2 linked regions of the Homo sapiens genome follow. The protein of the gene in region 1 interacts with the protein of each later gene in a pairwise test. Each region holds a gene or a part of one and is shown in the gene's direction. Other genes may lie near its edges. The genes, in order: ELOVL7 and LRCH4.

What was found.
Region 2: the proteins of ELOVL7 (region 1) and LRCH4 interact in binary tests that used the Homo sapiens proteins (3 or more experiments, as listed by UniProt).

Annotation. Positions count from the first base shown.
Region 1 is NC_000005.10:60,769,233-60,779,587, reverse strand, and holds part of ELOVL7 (very long chain fatty acid elongase 7), read left to right. Parts: intron 1-7,494; coding exon 7,495-7,685; intron 7,686-10,355. UniProt on the Homo sapiens protein: Catalyzes the first and rate-limiting reaction of the four reactions that constitute the long-chain fatty acids elongation cycle.
Region 2 is NC_000007.14:100,581,137-100,592,189, reverse strand, and holds the start of LRCH4 (leucine-rich repeat and calponin homology domain-containing protein 4), read left to right. Parts: upstream 1-6,060; 5' UTR 6,061-6,089; coding exon 6,090-6,309; intron 6,310-9,730; coding exon 9,731-9,875; intron 9,876-10,022; coding exon 10,023-10,149; intron 10,150-10,307; coding exon 10,308-10,413; intron 10,414-11,053. Other genes in the region: FBXO24 (F-box only protein 24), read right to left, coding at 288-523, 1,833-2,016, 2,115-2,213, 2,397-2,549. UniProt on the Homo sapiens protein: Accessory protein that regulates signaling by multiple TLRs, acting as a broad-spanning regulator of the innate immune response. In macrophages, binds LPS and promotes proper docking of LPS in lipid raft membrane. May be required for lipid raft maintenance.

The DNA of each region.
Region 1 (10,355 bases):
GGGACTTGATGCCCTGCATTCCAGCTGCTCCTGGAATGGCTAAAAAGGGCCAAGGTGCAGCTTGGGCCATGGCTTCAGAGGGTGCAGGCCCCAAGCTTTGGCAGCTTCTCCATGGTGTTGAGCCTGTGAATGCACAGAAGTCAAGAATTGAGGTTTGGGAACCTCTACCTAGATTTCAGAGGATGTATTGAAACTCCTGGATGTCCAGGCCGAAGTTTGCTGCAGAGGTAGAGCCCTCATGGAGAGCCTCTACTAGGTCAATGTGGAAGAGAAATGTGGGGTCAGACCCCAAACACCTAGTCCCCACTTGGGCAGTGCCTAGTGGAGCTGTGAGAAGAGGGCCACCATCCTCCAGACCCCAAAATGCTAGATCCATTGACAGCTTGCACTGTGCACCTGGAGAAGCCACAGACAGTCAGTTCCAGCCAGTGAAAGCAGCAGGAAAGGGGGCTGTACCCTGCAAAGCCACAGAGGCAGAGCTGCCCAAGGCCATGGGAGCCCACCTCTTGCACCAGTATGACCTAGATGTGAGACGTGGAGTCAAAGGTGATCATTGTGGAGCATTGAGATTTAATGACTGCCCTACTGGATTTTGGACTTGCATGGGGCCTGTAGCTCCTTTGTTTTGGCCAATTTCTGCCATTTGGAATGGGTATATTTATGCAGTGCCTGTATCCCCATTGTATCTGGAAAATAACTAACTTGCTTTTGATTTTACAGGCTCATAGGCAGAAGGGACTTGCCTTGTCTCAGATGAGACTTTGGATTTGGACTTTGAGTTAAAGCTGGAATGCATTAAGACTTTTGGGGATTGTTCGGAAGGCATGATTGTGTTTTGAAATGTGAGGACATGAGATTTGGGAGGGCCCAGGGACAGAATGATATGGTTTGACTGTATCCCCACCCAAATTTCATCTTGAATTATAGTTCCTATAATCCCCACATGTTATGGAGGGACCTAGTGGGAGATAAGTGAATCATGGGTACAGTTTCCCTGTGCTGTTCTCATGATTGTTTCTCACAAGAGCTGATGGTTTTATAATTGTCTGGCATTTCCCCTGCTGGCACTCATTCTCTCTCCTGCCACTTCATGAAGAGGTGCCTTCTGCTGTGATTGTAAGTTTCCTGACGTCTCCCAGGCCATGCAGAACTGTGAGTCAATTAAACCTCTTTCCTTGATAAATTACCCAGTCTCGGGTATTTCTTCATAGCAGTGCATGAGTGGACTAATACAATGATGTTCATGTATTTAAGGTTTGCACTACCCACTTATAGAAGAAATCTATCAAAGTTTGATCAGTTCTAATTTTTTCCCTTGGTCCCTGGTTCTGTGACAACTTTTATTTATGGAGACTTCCTTTGTGACATACAGACCCATAGCAAGCCTTCCTTGTGGTGGTTTTAATTGCACAAAACAACGAGACATCCTAGAAAGCTTGCCATTGTTAAAAGCAAGGAGGGGAACCAATAGAAGCAGTAAAAGATTTCAGTGATGTGTACCTGGGTAGCTGATTTCAAAGTTTTTCCTGATTTAGAACTGTGACAAATCTTAATATGAGAAAATACTTCCGAAATTATAGAACTTTATGTTTTGAAAAGTGTCTGTCATCAAACTTTTGTTTAATTTCTATTTTGTGCATGACACCTTGTTAAAATTATTCTGCTGAGAGCATCAGAGACGTCCTTTTGTTAAATGTAGTGGCATTTTTCTGTCCCCATTTTATTTCCCCTTTCTGCCACACTTAATGCTTTGACTCCTTCCGAAAATCCACTCTTCCCTGGCTTCAGGATATCTCACTTTTATGGTTTTCCCTCTACTTCTCTAGCTGTTCCTTTTTGGTTTTTATGTTTTTTCCTTCAGTAATTCCTTCTGTGAATGCTGAGTCCTCAGGATCCTGACTTCAGCACTTACTCTCCTTACTGTACCCACTTAGCCTAAGCCAATCTCACTGCTTTTATTGTTCATCATTTATGTGATGGCAACCCTCAATCTTATATCTCTGGCACAGATCTCTCTCCTAATTCTAGATCCATATATCCAGCTGCTTATGAAAGACTTCATATGAATGTTTTAAAGGCAGTCTAAGTGTAAGATGTTTTAAAACATAAGCCACCTCTGCTTGACCAATATTGCTCCTAATCCTGTGTTCCCAATCTAAGTGAATTTAAAGATCTGAGTATTTTTCTTTTAAAAATTTTTTTTTTAATTTTTGCGGGTAAATAGTAGGTGTATATATTTATGGAATACATAAGATGTTTTGATACAGGCATGCAATATGTAATAATTATATCATGTAAAATGGGGGTATCCATCCCCTCAAGCATTTATCCTTTGGGTTACAAATAATCCAATTATATTTTAAAACATACATTTAAATTATTATTGACTATAAGTCAGCCTGTCGTGCCACCAAATACTAGGTCTTATTCATTCTATTTTCTTTGTACCCATTAGCTATTCCCACCTCCCCCCCAACCCCCCTAGTACCCTTCCTAGCCTCTGGCAACCACCCTTCTACTCTATCTCCATGGACTTAATTGTTTTGATTCTTACATCCCACATATAAGTGAGAAATCTGAATATTTTTCTTAACATTTACCTATTTCCATTCCCTGTGTTTAACCAATTATAAATTTTTATATTTTCTTCTTCCTTACTGTATTTCAAAATAATCTCCTATTTATCTGTCACTATCACTACCTGTTTTTAAAATTTTTATTTTAGATTCAGGTGGTACACGTGCAAGTTTATAACTAGGCTATATTGTCTGATGCTGAGGTTTGGGCTTCTAGTGATTGCATCATGAATATAGTGAACATAGTACTTAAAAGTATGTTTTTCAGCCCTTGTCCCCTTCCTTCCCTCCCACATTTTGGATTCTTCAGTCTGTTGTTCCCATCTATACCTGCATGTACCCAAGACTTAGCTCCCACTTATAAGTGAGAACATGTAGCATTTGGTTTTGCATTTCTGTGTTCATTTGCTTAGGATAATGGTCTCCAACTACGTTCATGTTGCTGCAAAGGATATGATTTTGTTCTTTTTAATGACTGCATAGTACTCCACAGTATATATGTACCACATTTTCTTTATCCAATCCACCATTAATGGGCACCTAGGTTGATTACATGTCTTTGCTGTTATGAATAGTCCTGCAGTGAACATGCAAGTGTATGTATATTTTTGGCATTTTCCTTTCAGTATGTACCTAATAGTGGAATTGCTGGGTTGAATAATAGTTCTATTTGCAGTTTTTTGAGAAATCTCCAAACTGCTTTCCACAATGGCTGAACTAATTTGCATTTCCACCAACAGTGTATAAGCATTCCCTTTTCTCCACAGCCTCAACAACTTCTGTAATTATTTGACTTTTTAATGTTTGTTGGCCGCTTGTATGTCTTCTTTTGTGAAGTGTCTGTTCATGCTCTTTGCCCACTTTTTAATGAAGTTATTTATTTTTTCTTGTTGATTTAAGTTTCTTGTGGATTCTGGATATTAGTCCTGTTGGATGCATAGTTTGTGTTTTCTCCCAGTCCATAGGTTGTCTGTTTACTCTGTTAGTTTCTTTTGCTGTGCAAAAGCTCTTTAGTTTAATTAGGTCTTAATTGTTGATTTTTATTTGTGTTGCAATTGCTTTTGAGGACTTGGTCATAAAGCCTTTGCCAAGGCCAGTGTCCAGAAGAGTGTTTCCTAGGTTAGGTTTTCTCCTGGGATTTTTATAGTTTTAGGTCTTGCATTTAAGTCTTTAATCCATCTTAAGTTAATTTTTGTGTATGGTGGTAGGTAGTGGTCCAGTTTCAGTCTTCTGCATATGATTAGCCAGTTTTCCTAGCACCATCTATTGAATAGGGAGTCCTTTCCCCATTGCTTATTTTCATTGACTTTGTTGAATATCAGTTGGTTTTAGGTATGCTCCTTTATTTCTGGGTTTTCTGTTCAGTTCCATTGGCCGATGTGTCTATTTTTATATCAATACCATGCTGTTTTGGTTACTGTAGCCGTGTAGTACAGTTTGAAGTAAGATAATGTGATGCCTCCAGCTTTGTTCTTTTTGCTTAAGATTGCTTTGGCTATTTGGGCTCATTTTTGGTTTTCTATGAATTTGAGAATAGTTTTTTCTAATTTTGTAAAAAATAACATTGGTAATTTGATAGGAATAGCATTGAATCTTTAGATTGTTTTGAACAGTATGGACATCTAACAATGTTGATTTTTCTAATCCATGAGCATGGAATGTTTTTCCATTTGTATTTTCCATGATTTCTTTCAGCAGTGTTTTGTAATGCTCCTTGTACAGATCTTTTACTTCCTTGGTTAGATGTATTCCTATGTGTTTTATTTTTTGTGCTTGTGGTTATTGTAAATAGGATTGCATTCTTGATTTGGCTGTCAGCTTGAGGGTTGAAGAGCTGTTCCAAGCTCTTAAGGATAATGCTTTGGTGCATAGAAATGCTACTGATTTTCATACATTGATTTTGTATCCTGTAACTTTACTGAATTCATTTATCAAATATAAGAGTTTTGGCTGGGTGTGGTGGCTCATGCCTGTAATCCCAGCACTTTGGGAGGCCAACGTGGGCAGATCACGAGGTCAGGAGTTTGAGACCAGCCTGGCCAACAAGGTGAAACCCTGTCTCTACTAAAAATACAAAAATTAGCTGGGCATGGTGGCGGGCACCTGTAATCCCAGCTCCTCAGGAGACTGAGGCAGGAGATTCACTTGAACCCAGGAGGCAGAGGTTGCAGTGAACCAAGATCATGCCATTGCATTCCAGCCTGGGCGACAAGAGCAAGACTCCGTCTCAAAAAAAAAAAAAAAAAAGAGAGTTTTATGGTGGAGTTGGTAGGTTTTTCTAGGTAGAAGATCATATCATCAGCAAGCAGGGATAATTTTACTTCCTCTTTTCCAATTTTGATGCCTTTTATTTCTTTCTCTTGCCTGATTGCTCTGGCTAGGACTTCTAGTACTATGTTGAATAGGAGTGGGCATCCTTGTCTTGTTGCAGCTCTTAAAGATAATACTTCCAGCGTTTGCCCATTAGGTATGATGTTGGCTGTGGGTTTGTCATAGATGGCCCTTATTATTTGAGGTATGTTCCTTTAATGTCTAGTTTGTTGAGGGTTTTTATCATGAATAGATGTTAGATTTTATTGAAAACTTTTTCTGCATCTATTGGGATAATCATATGGTTTTTGTTTTTAATTCTGTTTATGTGGTGAGTCACATTTATTGACTTGAATATGTTGAACCAACTTTGCAGCTCAGGAATAAAGCCCACTTAATCGTGGTGAATTAACTTTTTGATGTGTTCCTGGATTCACCTGGCTAGTTTGTTGAGGATTTTTGCATCTATGTTCATGAGAGATATTGGCCTGTAGTTTTCTTTTTTGTCATTGTTGTTGTTGTTGGTGTGTCTTTGCCAGATTTTGGTGTCAGGATGATACTGGTTTCATAGAATGAGTTAGGGAGGAATCTCTCCTCCTCAATTTTTTGGAATAGTTTCAGTAGGATTGGTACTAGCTCTTCTTTGTATGTCTGACCACCTACTCTTCAGTCATTTAATTTATAAATTTATTTTAGTGTTCCACAGAACATTAGTTTCATAAGATGTTAAATAACATTCTACAAAAAAAATAGTGTTTTTTGGCCAAATACGTTTGGAGAATATGGCATACTGCCATTCCCATCGTGGCAATTCATGATGAACATGAAGCATTAAGAAATCCTGCAGTAATGCAACCTGTTTGTTTAACCCAGCATTCCAGTATTCCCCAATTCTTTGTGGAAAGTCTTTAAATAGCTTGTTTCCATGCATAGTTTGGAATATTCTTGTTTGTATAGGATATAAGATAAGAAACAAACTCATTTTTCTCCCAAGCAGTCAGTTTTCCTATCAACATTTGTTGAAGATCTCTTCCTTCCCTGCTTGTTTCTGGGACTTCCTTAATCATATATTAAATTCTTAAATGTCCTGGGATCTAGTCTGGAGCTGACTCTTGACTCTTTGGCTTTATTTCTTTATTTTTTTTGAGAGGGGCCTCTGCCAGTATTTTTGAGGGAGGCTTATTTGAATGCAGAATAATCACCCATGCACATCTGATAGTCAAATGTAAGCACTCCAGCACTAAAATTGAGGCCAAGTGAGTTATCAGTCATAGAGTCCTACTGAAGAAATTTTGAGTGGGAAGTCACACTTGCAGGGGTATTCAGAATTTGTCAGTGCTTGGCCACATCATTAGCAGCTTAAAAGAGCAAGAGCTACATTCTCCCTACCCTTCTTTTCCAATTGATAAAAGTGACAGTAGTTAGCATCCTGAGGTTAGTCATGGCATAATTTTGAGTCAGGTCCTTCTGGGAACTTGTCCTTACTTCCTTTCCTTCATAATACTCTAGCTTCATGAGGCCATTTAGTAAAATTAAACCTGAACTACTAGAAATTATAGACTTAATCACATTTCATCCTGAGTTGTAATTTTTTATTCATCCATCTCTGCTGGCCTGGAGCTGGCAGTAAGCAGATAAGTTTTTGTTTGCAATTGTGAGACCGTGCATTTTTTTTGCTCAGAATATCACAGTTGTTAGCTCACATGGACTCCAAAATCCCATACTTTAGCTACTTAGAGGATGTTCAGCCTTTCTATTCTGTGATCCTGTGATACAGTATATGTGGAAGTGTGCCAGTTTTCCTGGGGAAGGAAAAAAATTAAGCAGCAAACACAAACTTTTTTTAATATATAAAAGCATGTATGGATGGAAAAACTCCAAGATATTAATAATGACTATAGACACATGGTGGGATGTTGCTGGGTGTTCTCTCTTCCAGATAGCTTTGCACCCTGTGCTGGGCCCTGGAGAACGATCCATGAAGACTGTATCCTTGGGTTTGCTCCCCTGCCGTATGCTTTCTGGTTAGATTCAGCCAGTGGAGAGAGGGAGGAGAGTGGAGTTGGGGTATCTATTCCTCTGGCGCCATACTTACAGAATTGTCTTGGGCTGGCTGAATCCCTCAACTGACAGTCAAAACTTGTCTTAGCATACTCAGGATGCTTAAGAAATTATCATAGACTGGGTAGTTTATAAGCAGTGGAAATTTATTTCTCACATTCAGAGGGTGGAAGTCTGAGATCAGGGTGCCAGCACGGTCGGGTACTAGTGAGGACCCTCTTCCAGGTTGCAGACTGCCATCTTCTCATTGTATCCTTACATGGGGAAAGAGGGCAGGAGAGCTCCCTGGGGTGCCTTTTATAAGGGCACTAATACCATCATGCAGGCGATCAGTGCATAATACAGCTCCTCTCCCACTGTTTCTAGCCCCAGGATACTTCCTTATTCCTGTTGATTTCTTTTTCACCTTTCTAAAGATACTAGTGATCACTGCCCAAATAGCTCACAGTTAATAGTAGGATCTGGGTGCTCAGTTAAAGAAATGTTGGTTGCTGTTAGTTACCCCTTGGCTAAGCAGGTGTGTACTCACATATTGTTTTTCTCTTAGATCCAAGAGTTGAAGATTGGCTCCTCATGTCCTCGCCTCTGCCACAAACCATCCTCCTAGGATTCTATGTCTATTTTGTCACTTCCTTGGGACCAAAGCTCATGGAAAATCGCAAGCCCTTTGAACTCAAGAAAGCAATGATAACGTACAATTTTTTCATAGTACTCTTTTCTGTGTATATGTGTTATGAGGCAAGTGTCTTCAGTATTCCTAATGGGAGAATTTTGCCTGAGTTTTTCTGTTTATGTGTCATTATGTTTTCTGTTATAAGGGTAAACTTTGCAATTTAAGGAATTAAGAAACTGATCTCACTAGAGCAGGTATTTGCCAAAATAGTGTTAGGTATAGACCAAATAATAAACTCATTTGAGGATCTCAGTATAATCTGTCTCACAGATAATGAGAAAAACTAACATCTATTCCATGGATTTGTACATAATTGCCTTAATGGATTATTGAATTAATCCATAAATTTTAGTTTTGAGGAAACTCTTAAAGTAACATAGCTGGTAAGTGGAGGGCTGATATTTGAACCCAGGTCTGTCTGACATCAGAGTTCATCTTGACTCAGTAAAAAGTTGTCATCATCATGGTAGGCACCTTTGGTTTCTGGATACTCTGATGAACTATGGGATGGTAGACTGTTTTGGTTAGTTTAGCTGGGCTTTGTGGGGACAGAGAGCATAGACTCATATAAAGCAGTAGGTGAGGGAGCCTGTTCCTTAATTTTTTTCCCATTAACTCATTAATTCATTACTGTCCCTTAATTGTTAATAAGAGAGATGGGGCTCTTCCAGGACCCTAAAACAGATTCATGAATTCTCTCTCTTCCCCTGTGCTATTAACATGCCTCAGCCACCCCCATGTATGTTCTTTTCTGAGATTCCTTCCTTCTTTTCCAACTCTGGCTGGCTTCATTATCCTTTTTTATTAACTTCCTCTATAGCATAACTGGTGCTTAATCATAAGTAGGGCTCACGAGGGCCCAATATGGGCCCACTGACCTCTCCTGGCACCATAGTTTCTCCACATGCATTCTGACCTGACTCTTGCTACAGATCCATCATATCGATCACTTTAAATCTACTGTGGCTGGCCAGGTGTGGTGGCCTACACCTGTAATCCCAGCACTTTGGTAGGCTGAAGTAAGAGGATTGCTTGGGCCCAGGAGTTTGAGACCAGCCTGGACAACATAGGGAGACCTTGTGTCTACAAAAAATACAAAAAAATTAGCCAGGCGTGGCGGTGCACGCCCGTGGTCCCAGCTGCTTGGGAGGCTGAGGTGAGAGGATCACTTGAGCCTGGGAGGTCAAGGCTGCAATGAGCCGTGATCATGTCTAGTGACGGAGCAAGACCCTGTCTCAAAAAATAAAAATAAAAAAAATACTCTGGCCTTATTTCTCACAGTCCTCCCTATAGTCTGGACTCACTCTGCTGCTTTCCATTTCTTCTATTTTATTTTGAAAATTAACTCACAGGCCACTCTTAATGTCCCTTCAGGAGTATGAGCAACTGAGAGGAAAAGAGTGATAGAGATGGGAGCAAAGAAAACACAAGGTCCTAGCATGGTCTTAGGGGACAGCATGTTGTAGTAAGGTGTTAAGAACATACCTGGAAGCCAGGAGATTAGGAACTAGTTAGTTCTGCTTCTGCCACTGACTGGCTGCCTGAATTTTAGCAAGTTATTTAACCTCTCTGGGCCTCAGTTCTCTCGTTTTATAAAGATAGGATTGAACCAAATAGTCTCTCAGATCCCTCCTTGCTCTCATATTCTTAGGGTCTATGTCTGATTTGTCATTGAGTGTAATGTACCCAAATATATTTCTCAGGCTTGGAAAGAATCCAGTCATCGCCAGTCAGCTTTGATTCCTACTTGATCAATTACAATGTAAAAGAAGATTTTAAAATATCTGAATTTGAGAGTTTCTGACTCTCATTTACTGCTAATACTTGAGTTACTTATGTGTCAGTTTCAGGAACTACCTGCCAAATATAAATTATTACTTTCTGAATTCAGGGAATTCTTTTTTTTTTTTTTTTCACCAGAAAGGGTCTCGCTCTGTCACCCAAGCTGGAGTGCAGTGGCACGATCTTGGCTCACTGCAGCCTTGACCTCCCAGGCTCAAGTGATCCTCCCACCTCAGCCTCCCAAGTAGCTGAGACTACAGGCATGCGCCACTATGTCTAGCTAATTTTTTGTATTTTTTGTAGAGATGGTGTTTTGCCATGTTTCCCAGACTGCTCTCAAACTCCTAGACTCTAGTGATCCACCTGCCTGAGCCTCCCAAAGTGCTAGGATTACAGGTGTGACCCACTGGGCCTGGCCTAATTTTTCTTATTACTAGCCTGGAATATAGACATATATGTAAAAAGTTCCACAAGCTGTTGGAATGTTCTTAAACTTTCTACTCTATTTAAACAAAGGCTTTTGATAGCCACACAGCATGCCATCCATCTGTTGATGGCACATCCGAACACATGGTTTATTGTATGGAGTATGATTTCATTTGGTTTACAAAGCAAACACCTCTACCAATGATGTTAGGCCAAATCTGAAGAAGTTGAAAGGGAAGGACATCAGACTCAAGAAACTCAGATGCCTTCTTGTGTAGTGATTGTTTGAAAGTGCTAGTTACTTGGCAGCAGTCAGACACTAGCAGAGACCACTTAAGACCCAACAGAAGGCCAAGTCTCACAACTTTCATTCGACACAGTGCTTGTTTGGGGTAGGGTAAGGTGGAGAATTATTCATCACAATTCCAGTAAATAGCTCCTGGCCACAGAGCGTTACATTAGTCAAAAATGAGTCTGAGCACAAGAGAATATGAGGACACTCACTGACAGTAGGATTTTATAAAACA
Region 2 (11,053 bases), on another chromosome or scaffold:
CCTCCCAAGTTCAAGCAATTCTCCTGCCTCAGCCTCCCAAGTAGCTGGAATTATAGGCACCCACCACCACACCCAGCTAATTTTTGTATTTTTAGTAGAGACGGGTTTCGCCATTTGGCCAGGCTGGTCTCGAACTCCTGGTCTCAGCTGATCCGCCTGCCTCAGCCTCCCAAAGTGCTAGGATTACAGGTGTAAGCCACTGCACCCGGCCTCTGGTACGTCTTTATAGCAGTGTGAAAATGGACTAATACAGGTGGGCTCTCAGCTGCCAGGGTTCTGCTACTCACATCCTTGGCTCCACGACACAACACAACATAGCGACAGGCCCGCTTCCACTGCATCTGGCCGAGGGTGGAGACCAGGGCATTTTTGAGGAAGAAGAGGGTCCCCACGTAGTCAAGAATGAAGACGTGATCCTTGGTGGGCAAGAAGCGGCGGTAGCCGTGGGCTAGCAAGGGGGCCACGCTCTTGCTGAGACATCGGCGGCGGCCTCCAAATGCCTGGAAATACAGGCCCTTCGTGTCTGGAGGAAGGAAGGAGATGGAAGGTTCAAGGGATGAGATGACACGAGGGAGATGAGTTGGAGCTTGGGTAGATTTCTTAGACACGCTGGTTTGTAGTTCCTCCCCATCCCCAGGACAGGGGAACAAACAGACCCCTTATGAAGGAGATGTGGAAAATAAGCTTAGATTATACTCGACATGTGAACTTTAGTCTCCACCCCACCTCAGCCCAGGGTCAAACATTTGCTTCTTAGTGAGCAGTTCTTTGGTGCAACCTTGCATCAGTGATGTTGAGGAAAACTCTAAGAATAAAGACACAGAGGCTGCGTGCGGCATCCACCCCCCTCACCCTGAGCCCCTCCTCCCATCCTCACAGCTCAGTGAATTTTTGCACGCCTGTAATCCCAGCACTTTGGGAGCCCAGGAGTTTGAGACCAGCCTGGGCAACGTGGCAAAACCCCATCTCTACTAAAAATACAAAAATTATCCGGGTGTGGTGGCGGGAGCCTGTAATCCCAGCTACTCAGGAGGCTGAGGCACGAGAATACTTGAACCCGGGAGGTGGAGGTTGCATTGAGCCAAGATTGCACCACTGTGCTCCAGCCTGGGTGACAGAGCAAGACCCTGTCTCAAAAAAAAAAAAAAAAAAAAAAAATCAAAGAAAAAGAAAGAAAAGAGAAGAGACAGAAACAGGAGTGAAAAGGAATGATTGATGAAGGCCGGTCATCCTCCCTCACCCCTAGCTTTGGATCTGTTTTCTGGGTCCCCCTTCTCTTTTAATCTCCCAGTGAGTGTAAGAAGTACACCCTGGGGGATCCCTGGAGGGGAAGAGGGTTTATGGCATGGTTCTCAGGCTAGGGGTGATTTTGTCCTTCAAGGGCATTGGTTGTCACAATTAAGGGGGATGCTGCTGGCCATCTGGTGGGTGGAGGCCAGGGTTGCTGCTTAAACATCCCACCATGCAGAGGACAGCTCCCCACATCAAGGAATTATTTTGCCCAGAATATCAACAGTGAGTTCAGAAGCCTTGGGTTAGAGGAGGGAAAACTCCAGGTTTGGGGAGTGAGGGATGCCTCTAGGGAAAAAGCGGGAAGTGTCTGTGTACAGAGGGAGACTTGGCAGGGAGGCCGCTAACGGGGGCTGTGGGTGGATTCCGAAGACTTGGAGGAAGTACTCAAGGGAGAATGTTTGAACTGGACCCGTTTCTTCCGGAGAAAGGGGCCCTGGAAGCACTGTTGGGAGTGTGGGGGTCATCAGGGGACTTTAGAGAGCAGGAAGGCTAAGGCGGGACAGAGGCAAGGAGAACGGGAGGTTCTGGGGAAGGTGTACAGTTCAGAATGGCAGCTCTCTTCCAGGGCCGGACTCCAGAACCCTGATCTTGGAGGCGCGGACTGAGTCTGCGACAGATGCGTCTCCACACGCCTTCCCCATCGCACACTTCGTGGAAGTAGCGGCAGGTCTGGCCGAGGGCAACAAGGTCTCTGACTGGGAGGAATGAGATGATATGCTCCACCTGGGAGGGAGGAGGGAAGAAGCGGGGAGTCTTTGGTGGCCCCTCGGTGATCTGGCCCCCAATCCTATTATTCTCAATCCCCCTCCCCAAGGACTCACCAGCTCTGGGGGGAACAACTGGATGGAAATCGGATTTCCTTTCCCCCTCTTCTCTTCAACCCCAAGCTCCGAGCCACAAGAAGGGCAGCTTCTCTTCACCTACCCAAGAAGGGGTGCATAGGGTCCCATGAGGGTCCCACATCCTTTTTTCCCTTCTCTCCGCCTACCTTGGGGCTCATCTGACTCTAGCTGGGCACAGTTATTTCCTCCCCTCTCTCTCCAGACCCATCCCTAACTTCTCCAAATAACTCCTCCCGATCTCCTGCGGCCAATCCCCCTCACCCGGAGCCCCTCCTCCCGTCCACACAGCCTGGTGAATTTTTGCAGCTTCCGTCTCTGGCTTCCCCTGACCATCCTGATTGCCCCCTCCCTGCTCCTGCCCTCCTGTCTCCTAGGCCCTTGGCCCCCCCGTTCCTGCTGGCTTTCCCACACCATGTCCCCAGCCTAGGCTTGGGGGACCTCTGAGGCCCCTCTGCCTCCTAGGCCCCTCCCCCATGGAGTCTGGGGCTAACAAACCTCTCTGTGACCTCACTGTTTGGCCACTGTGACCTGTTCCCTTTAATCTTGCCCAGGACCCATCTCTTAGACAGCTCCTGGGTTCTAGCTCAGTTCTAGCCATCACATGGCTCAAGGGATATGCATTTTACTGGAGAAATAAAGTGTGAATTACTGGTAGGTGACATCTTTATTTCAGGGAGCAGGAGGAAGTTTTCCTATTTGAGGCCCTTTTAGCACTAACTCTGTAGAGAAACACTAGTGAATTCCTCACATTTCAGCAGGCCAAGGCCTCTAGGGATTGGTAGCTCAAGAGTATAGACTCAAAAAACTATAAACTCAGTTTGACAGGTGAGATGGAGAGGTGACTGTGCTAATAATCGTTTAGCTCACAAATGATTCAGCAAACTCTTTAGACTTGTGAAAAAACACATCCAAAAGGAGACTGCAGCCTGGTGCCGGTGGCTAACGCCCGAAATCCCAGCACTTTTGGGTGGCCATGGTGCAAGGATGGCTTGAGGCCATGGGTTTCAAGACCAGCCTGGTCAACATAGACCCTGCGTCTATTAAAAAAAAAAAAAAACTTAAAAATTACCCAGGCGTGGTGATGCACCCCTGTAGTCCCAGCTACACAGGAGGCTGAGGCAGGAGGATTGCTTGAGCCCAGTTTGAGGCAGCAGTGAGCTATGATCGTGCCACTGCACTCCAGCCCGGGCGAGAATGATACCCAGTTTCAAAAAAAACAAACAAAAAAGAAGACTGCTTTTGCTTTCCTGAGGGACAGTAACATCATTGCATGTATAAAGGACAACCTATTAAGGTGGGAGAAAGGGATGGATTTCCTCTGAAAGCTTAGGATTTCTCCCAGGGTCTCTGATATTAGCTTTGTCTTATGTGGGGTGACATTTATCAGGAGAAACAGCAGGGGTCAGGGTTGTGTCTGTCCCACTCAGGCCAGATCTACACCAATAAATCCAAGGAGTGGCTGGCTCTTGCAGGGGCTCAAAGGAGTCCCATCCTGCCAGACCACCAGCCCTCACCACACAGTGTCACAGATCCGTTCATTGACTGCACCAGACTGACCACCCAAATTCCCTTATGTATGGTGCCTAGCCATGGCTAGGCTGGGATGCCTGAGATGGAATTTTAATTCTTCAGCAACTACTCAGGAATATCAACCTCTGAGATGTGAACTAAGGAGAAAGCAACTTCAGTGACTTATTTCTGGGCAACCTACCACATAGGGAGGGGACTGCATTAGGGACTCATGCCACTTAGAAAGGAAGATCTCCAAGTAGACAGAAAGGTATTTTCCATTCCTCTTGCATTTGGGTCCCCTTTATCCACTCCATTTCACCCCAGGAGGCAAACGAGAGGTTGTGAATAGAAAAAGTCCACTGTGGGCCAGGCTTTGTGGCTCACGCTTATAATCCCAGCACTTCGGGAGGCCGAGGTGGGAGCATTGCTTGAGCCCAGGAGTTTGAGATCAGCCTGGGCAACATAGTAGGACCCTGTCTCTACAAAAAATACAATTAGCTGGCATGGTGGTGCGTGCTTGTAGTCCCAGTTACTCGGGAGGCTGAGGTGGGAGGTTGAGGCTGCAGTGAGCTGCGATCAAGCCACTGCACTCCAGCCTGGGCAACAGAGCGACTCTGTCTCAAAAGAAAGAAAAAGTCCACTGTGGGCCGGGTGCGGTGGCTCACGCCTGTGATCCCAGTACTTTGGGAGGCAGAGGCAGGATCGCTTGAGGTCAAAAGTTTGAGACCAGCCTGGGCAACATAGCAAAACCCCATCTCTACAAAAATTGAAAATAAATTAGCCAGGTGCAGTGGTGCCGCCCGTGGTCCCAGCTACTTGGGAGGCTGAGGCAGGAGGATCACTTGAGCCCAGGCATTCAAGGCTGCAGTGAGCCATGACTGCACCACTGCACTCCAGCCTGGGCGACAGAATCAGACCTTCTTAAAAAAAAAAAAAAAAAGGCCGGGCGCGGTGGCTCACGCCTGTAATGCCAGCACTTTGGGAGGCCGAGGAGGGCATATTGCCTGAGCTCCTGAGTTTGCGACCAGCCTGGGCAACACGGTGAAACCCCGTCTCTACTAAAATACAAAAAATTAGCCGGGTGTGGTGGCGGGCGCCTGTAGTCCCAGCTACTCGGGAGGCTGAGGCAGGAGAATTGCTTGAACCCGGACAGTGGAGGTTGCTGTGAGCCGAGATCGCGCCACTGCACTCCAGCCTGGGCGACTGAGCGAGACTCCATCTCAAAAAATAAAAAAATAAAAAGAGGAAGGGAACGGAAGGGAGAGGGAGGGAGGGAGGAAGAGAGGAAGGGAGTGAAAACATCCACTGTGAAAACTGAGGGAGCGGGAAAGGGCTGTGCGTGGAGGATCCAGAGACCTGGTTTCTAGAGCAAGCCAGCTGTCAGGAACTTGCTGTTCGCTCTTGCTAACGCATCAACTTCCCTCTGCCTCAGTTTCTGCATTCGTAGCACCAAGGGCGTGTTCTAGGCGGTGAGATCCTTTCTAAGCCTCTAAAACCCCGTGGTCTGGTCCCCTCTCCATTCCTGTCCAGGGGAGCTCCTCGGGTGAGACGGCAGACCGTGCAACGCTGCACCTACACCCTCCCTCCTCGAGCTGGGCATCTCCAGGCTCTGGGAAGCCCCCCGCCCGCCCCCAGCCCGGGGGTCCCGAGACCCCTGCCAGAGGCTTCACAGTCGGAGGTCCCCCCGCTGCCCCTTCAGCTGCGACAACCGCCAGTGCACTGGCCTCAAGCAGTCGCCCGAATCCCCTCAAGCCCTGGACGCCGGCTAGCCCCCTAACACGTCCAGCTCGCACTCGCCACTGCAGCGGCGAACTGCGTTCCCGGCCGGCCAGGGGCTCCGCGTTCATTCTTAACCTCAGTCTTAAAGTTCTAGCTCACCCGCCTCCTCCTTAGCAAAGGGACCGCCTTCTCGCCCATGCTATTGGTAGGTAGAGCCGTCCCTCAGAGAAGAGGCAGGTCCAGATTCCCTTCGGAGGCTCTAATTGGCCTTCTTGACAGTCACTCGCCTGTATCTGGCTTACGATTGGTCTTTGGGGGACGAGGACTAGGCACCCCCTGCTTGCGGTCCCTCGGCCCGTTTTCCTGCTAGTGGAGTGCCGGTGTCCCCTCCTCTTGGTTGGACCTGATTGGCTCCACCTCCCGATCTGAGCATTGTGATTGGGTGCAGCTGCGCTGGGCGGGACGGCCTGGAGCGTCGGCCGTTGGCGAGCGCTCTATCCTTGTTCCCCTCCCTTCTCTCGTCAGACTCCGGCGCCGGAGCTCCACCCCCACTGACGGGTTCTGATTGGCCGCTTCTGACGCGTCTCGGGGCCACGATTGGTCCGTCCGGTCCCGGACACCGCTCCCTCCCCCTTGAGGCAACTACGGCGGCTCCAAGGAGGGGGTGGGGGAAGGAGGGACGGCCGGTCCCGTCAGTCAGGCAGCGGGAGCCGCCGGGAGCGGATGGCGGCGGCCGTAGCGGCTCCACTCGCCGCCGGGGGTGAGGAGGCGGCAGCCACGACCTCCGTGCCCGGGTCTCCAGGTCTGCCGGGGAGACGCAGTGCAGAGCGGGCCCTAGAGGAGGCCGTGGCCACCGGGACCCTGAACCTGTCTAACCGGCGCTTGAAGCACTTCCCCCGGGGCGCGGCCCGTAGCTACGACCTGTCAGACATCACCCAGGCTGGTGAGTGCAGCCGGGCCCCGGGCCCAACCGGGTCCCTCATTTGCATAGCCCCACCCCGGGCCCCGCCCGGCCCGGGAGTCGGGCCCGCCCCTTCACCTGGCGGCCAGGGTTGCTGCCCCTCCTGATTGCCCTAAACCTGCAGCCATCCTCTCCCATCTTTGAGAACCCCCTAGACAATGAACGTGCTTCTCGTTTGCACAGAACGCCCTGCGCCTCCGAGCGTTGGGAGAGATTCCTCCTTTCTCTTTATTTGCATATCTGCGCACCTGTAGGATGGTCCCGCCCCTCACCTGGTTGGCTTATTTACATGATCTCTTAACCTCAGCTCCAATCGGTCTATGAAGCAGTCCCCACGAGCTCCTCTAATAACTGCTTTCTCTCCCTCTTCATCTACACCTCTTAACCCCCGTCCCACCGAGATCCGAGCAGCCCCGGGCACCCCCTTCCCAGTGACTGGCCCCTAAGCCCGAGGTTTCTGCTTTCTGTGCCGCAACCCCGCCCCCTAAGGTCCTGGCCCTCTCCACTGTCCACGCAGCTCTCCAGCCTATGGGAAAGAAACAAATCTCTACCTCCCCTCACTCTTTTCTCCCTGAGCTCTTCCGCCTATTATCCCCAACCGGCTTATCTGAGATTCCTCCTCCTCCTTCCTAAGCCTGTGAGGTCACTGTGGAGCCTGTGACCTCATAGGGATCTTAGAATTCCCATTTCAGTTTCTGCTTTCCCCCGGGGGAGGGACTTGAGGCCGTTGCTGGAGGGAAGGAAATCTTATCTCCTAGCTGGGAGTGCTGGCCAGCTAGAGACTGTCCTTCCACGCCTCCACCCGCAGGATCTGTCCAACCATGCACCCTCCACCCTGGTGTCTGTGGATGGTAGGGGGTGGGGGACTTAACTGTGACAGGTGAGTCAAGCCTCAGCTACTCAGGAGGCAGCCTATGACCTTGGGCCGGCAGCTGGGGGTGGGGATCAGGATCAGGGAGGAGGACTGCATTCCCGAAGCCTCACCCCAGCCCAGGCCTCTTCCTCCTCTCATCTGCACGGTGGGGGACCAGAGCTGGAGGATAGTGCTTACTTCTCCCTAAGCAGGTGCCTGCTCACCTGGGAACACTCAGGCCGGCACTGGCACACATCCTCTTCCCTCTTCTGGGGAGAACCAGTCGAAACCTCCCCACTGATCTCGCCTGCTCTGCAACACTTGAGATGGGGAATGAGTGAGCTCCAGGAGCCATTCCTGCCCCTTACAGCCCTGTTCCCTCCCACCCCCACCTAACCCCACACTCCAGATTGACCTCAGCAGCTGTGTGACACTCACTGTCTGTTCCCTTCCCCTCCCCCTTGGTTGTTTTTTGACAAAGACCAAATGTTATTCTTTACTTCCTTAGGCTGTCTCTCCCTGTGTGGACTCTTGGGGAAAACTACCCGGAGCTCCCCGGCCCCTCCCAGCTCCCGCCCCCGGCCCCCTCCTCCCCCAGCATTCCGGCTCAGGGTGCAGCCGTGCTCCTGTGAGCTTGGGGGGGGGTCGGAAATCCCAGCTTCCCAAGAACCCTCCTCTGCCCCACTCTCTACACAGGGCCCAGGTTCTAGGCCAAGTGGGGTCCCTCTTGTCCAGAATTCTCTCCTCTGTCCCCTCTCCGCAAGCAGGGACAGAAAGGGGAAGTGACAAAAACATACAGTTGCCCATACCCTGCCCTCCATCTCTCCTCGCCCTCCAAGCAGACGAAAAGCATCAGTGCCTTGCTGCCCGGACTGCCTTGAGCCTTCCCCTCCCGTCTCCCATCTCTTTCTGAGTGTCTTCGCTGCGTGTCGCCTAGTCTTGGGTCCCTGATCTCCCTTGGACTAGGCTCCCTGGGGTGATAGTAGGAAGAATCCTGAGGTGGCGGGGAGGGGCCATCTTGCAAAGGAGAAGTGCAGCTCATTCTCTCCCAGACCACATCCTGTGCCCCCAGTGCCCTGCCTCCTGCCTGAGCTCCCTTCCGCTCCTAGCTTTTGTCCCCGCCACCGCCTACCCCATCAGAACTCTGAGAACTCGGTCTCCACCCCCTTCGTCCACATGCACACACACAAACACATTTGCAGAGAAAGCGGGCAGGTGGAGGCGAGGCTGGGAGGGGCAAATGCCATCCCCCCACCCTCTCCAGAACGGTCATCTCTGAGGCCAGGGCTTCTGTCTGTGCACCAGGGCTGGGCAGAGAGGAAGAGAAAGGGGTCCCGGGGCATCAGGCTGTCATCCACCCTGGTAAACACGGGGCCTACCAGAGCCAGAACCTGACAGATTGTTTCTACTTCATTTCCTGTCACAAGACTCATTTCCTTGGGGGATATACCCGGCTTCTCTCCTCTGCTTGCTTTTGCTGGCCTGCCCTTCCCTGAGAAGGGCCCTTGGAGAAGCTCACCAGGTCTGTGGCCTGGGACTCCGCCTCGCGGGCCCTGGGCCCCTCCCAGGACAGGCTGGGCCGAGGAAACAGAAAGGCAGGCTTCTCCAGGTCTAAGCCGTTAGTGGGTCCGTGCTACAGGGAATCCCAAGGCTGCCAGCCTCCGCATAGCAAGGCAGTGCTCCAGATAAGAGGGCGATTGTAGACCCCAGGCCCTCCCACACTCTCCACCCTCGCCGTGCCTGAGATGCTCACACAGTTGCTGATCTCTTGAAGTCTGTGTCAGTAAGAGAGGAAGCAGAGCCGGGCTGCTAGGGCTAGCAGAGGGTAGGAAGGATGCCTGCCCTGGGCCAGAGAAGCCCAGATGGGAGGGACCTGGGAACTCCAGCTCCCATCTCCAACCAGGTCTTCTTGCCCTTCCCTCCCAGCCCTTGGGAATCAGTAACTTTATGATTCTTTGGACCTGGCTTGCTGGTCCTTGGGGCTGGCGAAAAACTCGTCCGGTGTCGGGGACTTTATCTCTAGAACCAAGATAGAGTGACCTGTGGTTTTTCCCGTGTTGAAAACACACTGGAGTAGGGAAGAAGGGCCCCGAGGAGGGATGGGCACTCCCTGTGGTTTGCCCCAGGGGTTTCCCATCTTCCCTCCGGGAGCCCCCCAGCCCCTCGCCTTACTGTTTTCCCATGAGCACTGACCCCTCCTCTCACCTTCGGTCCTCCGCCTCACCTGGCATCTCTGAACAGGAACCACAGGAGTTAGAGATTCCAGCTGCTCTCCAGGATAGCCCTCCATTGACATTCCCCAACCCCCAAGTCTGAGGCTTCTCTAGCCCAGTGACGCTAAGGCCTTTGCCTTCCCTGTGCCATTCTGGTCACGCCTGGAATGTGCTCCCGTTGGCAGAAGGCTTTGTTATCTCTCCTGGGAGGCCACATTGATGGCCTTGAATCTTTAGGTGTGGAGGTGAGGGAGTGGGCAGCCGGCTCTGGGGGGACTGAAGGTCCTGTCCGGGCTGGGCCTTTCCGCAACTCTCCCCGACACCTCCTTTTCCCCAGACCTGTCCCGGAACCGGTTTCCCGAGGTGCCCGAGGCGGCGTGCCAGCTGGTGTCCCTGGAGGGCCTGAGCCTCTACCACAATTGCCTGAGATGCCTGAACCCAGCCTTGGGGAATCTCACAGCCCTCACCTACCTCAACCTCAGGTAGGGAGGCCGAGCCAGGGCCACGTGGGAGCGTGTGCTTCTCAGTCTCAAGTACTACTGAGTGACCCACCCAGTGACCCCGAGAGGATGGCAGTGCTGGGATGCCATGCCTGGGGAGCCAGTCCGCTGCCTTTCTCCCTTCCACAGCCGAAACCAGCTGTCGCTGCTGCCACCCTACATCTGCCAGCTGCCCCTGAGGGTCCTCATCGTCAGCAACAACAAGCTGGGAGCCCTGCCCCCTGACATCGGCACCCTGGGAAGCCTGCGACAGCTTGTGAGGATGGGGACGGGACCAGGAAAGGGACCCCTGAGCCAGGCAGCGGGACCTTCTAGGGGGAGGTTGGGGAGGGCCTGGAGCAAAGACAGAGATGGGAGGGTGGGTTCTGCTGGGCCTGGTCTCATGGCCCCTTCCCACTGCCTTCCTGATACCAGGACGTGAGCAGCAACGAGCTCCAATCCCTGCCCTCGGAACTGTGTGGCCTCTCTTCCCTGCGGGACCTCAATGTCCGGAGGAACCAGCTCAGTACGCTGCCCGAAGGTGAGAAGAATGAAGAACTGGAGAGGAGGTGTTTGTATGTGCGTCCCAGTTGGCTCAGGCTGCGGTAACGAAAACACTGCAGACCGGGTAGCTTATACATGGCAGGCATTCATTTTTCACAGTTCTGGAAGCTGAAGTTCAGGATCTGGGTGCTTCCATGGTCAGCTTCTGGCAGGGTGCTTTTCCTGGCTGCAGACTGCCGGCTCCTTGTGGTACTCTCCGATGGCGGAGAGCAGAGACAGCCCTCTGGGGCCTCTTTGATAAAGGAGCACAAATCTCACTGATGAGGGCTCCACCCTCATGATCTCAATTACTTCCCTAAGGCCTCGCTTCCTAATCCCATCACTTTGGGGGTTAGGATTTCAGCAGAGGACTTTTTGGGTGACACATTTCAGTCCATAACAGTGTATGTGCTTTGAAGAAGTTACAGGCCAGGAATCTTCAGAGGAGAATTACACCTTCATTGTCCAGGCTTTTGCAGTATATAAAACAAACTGTAAACGATCTGATTTGATCTTGACCTAGCAACCCTCTGATGCTGGCAGGGCGCAGATGAGCAGCTGTGTTAGAAACGTGGACACAGGCACAGAAGGGGAGCTGGTGGGTGCATCAGCTCTAGGTAGACTGGCAAGGTCAGAAG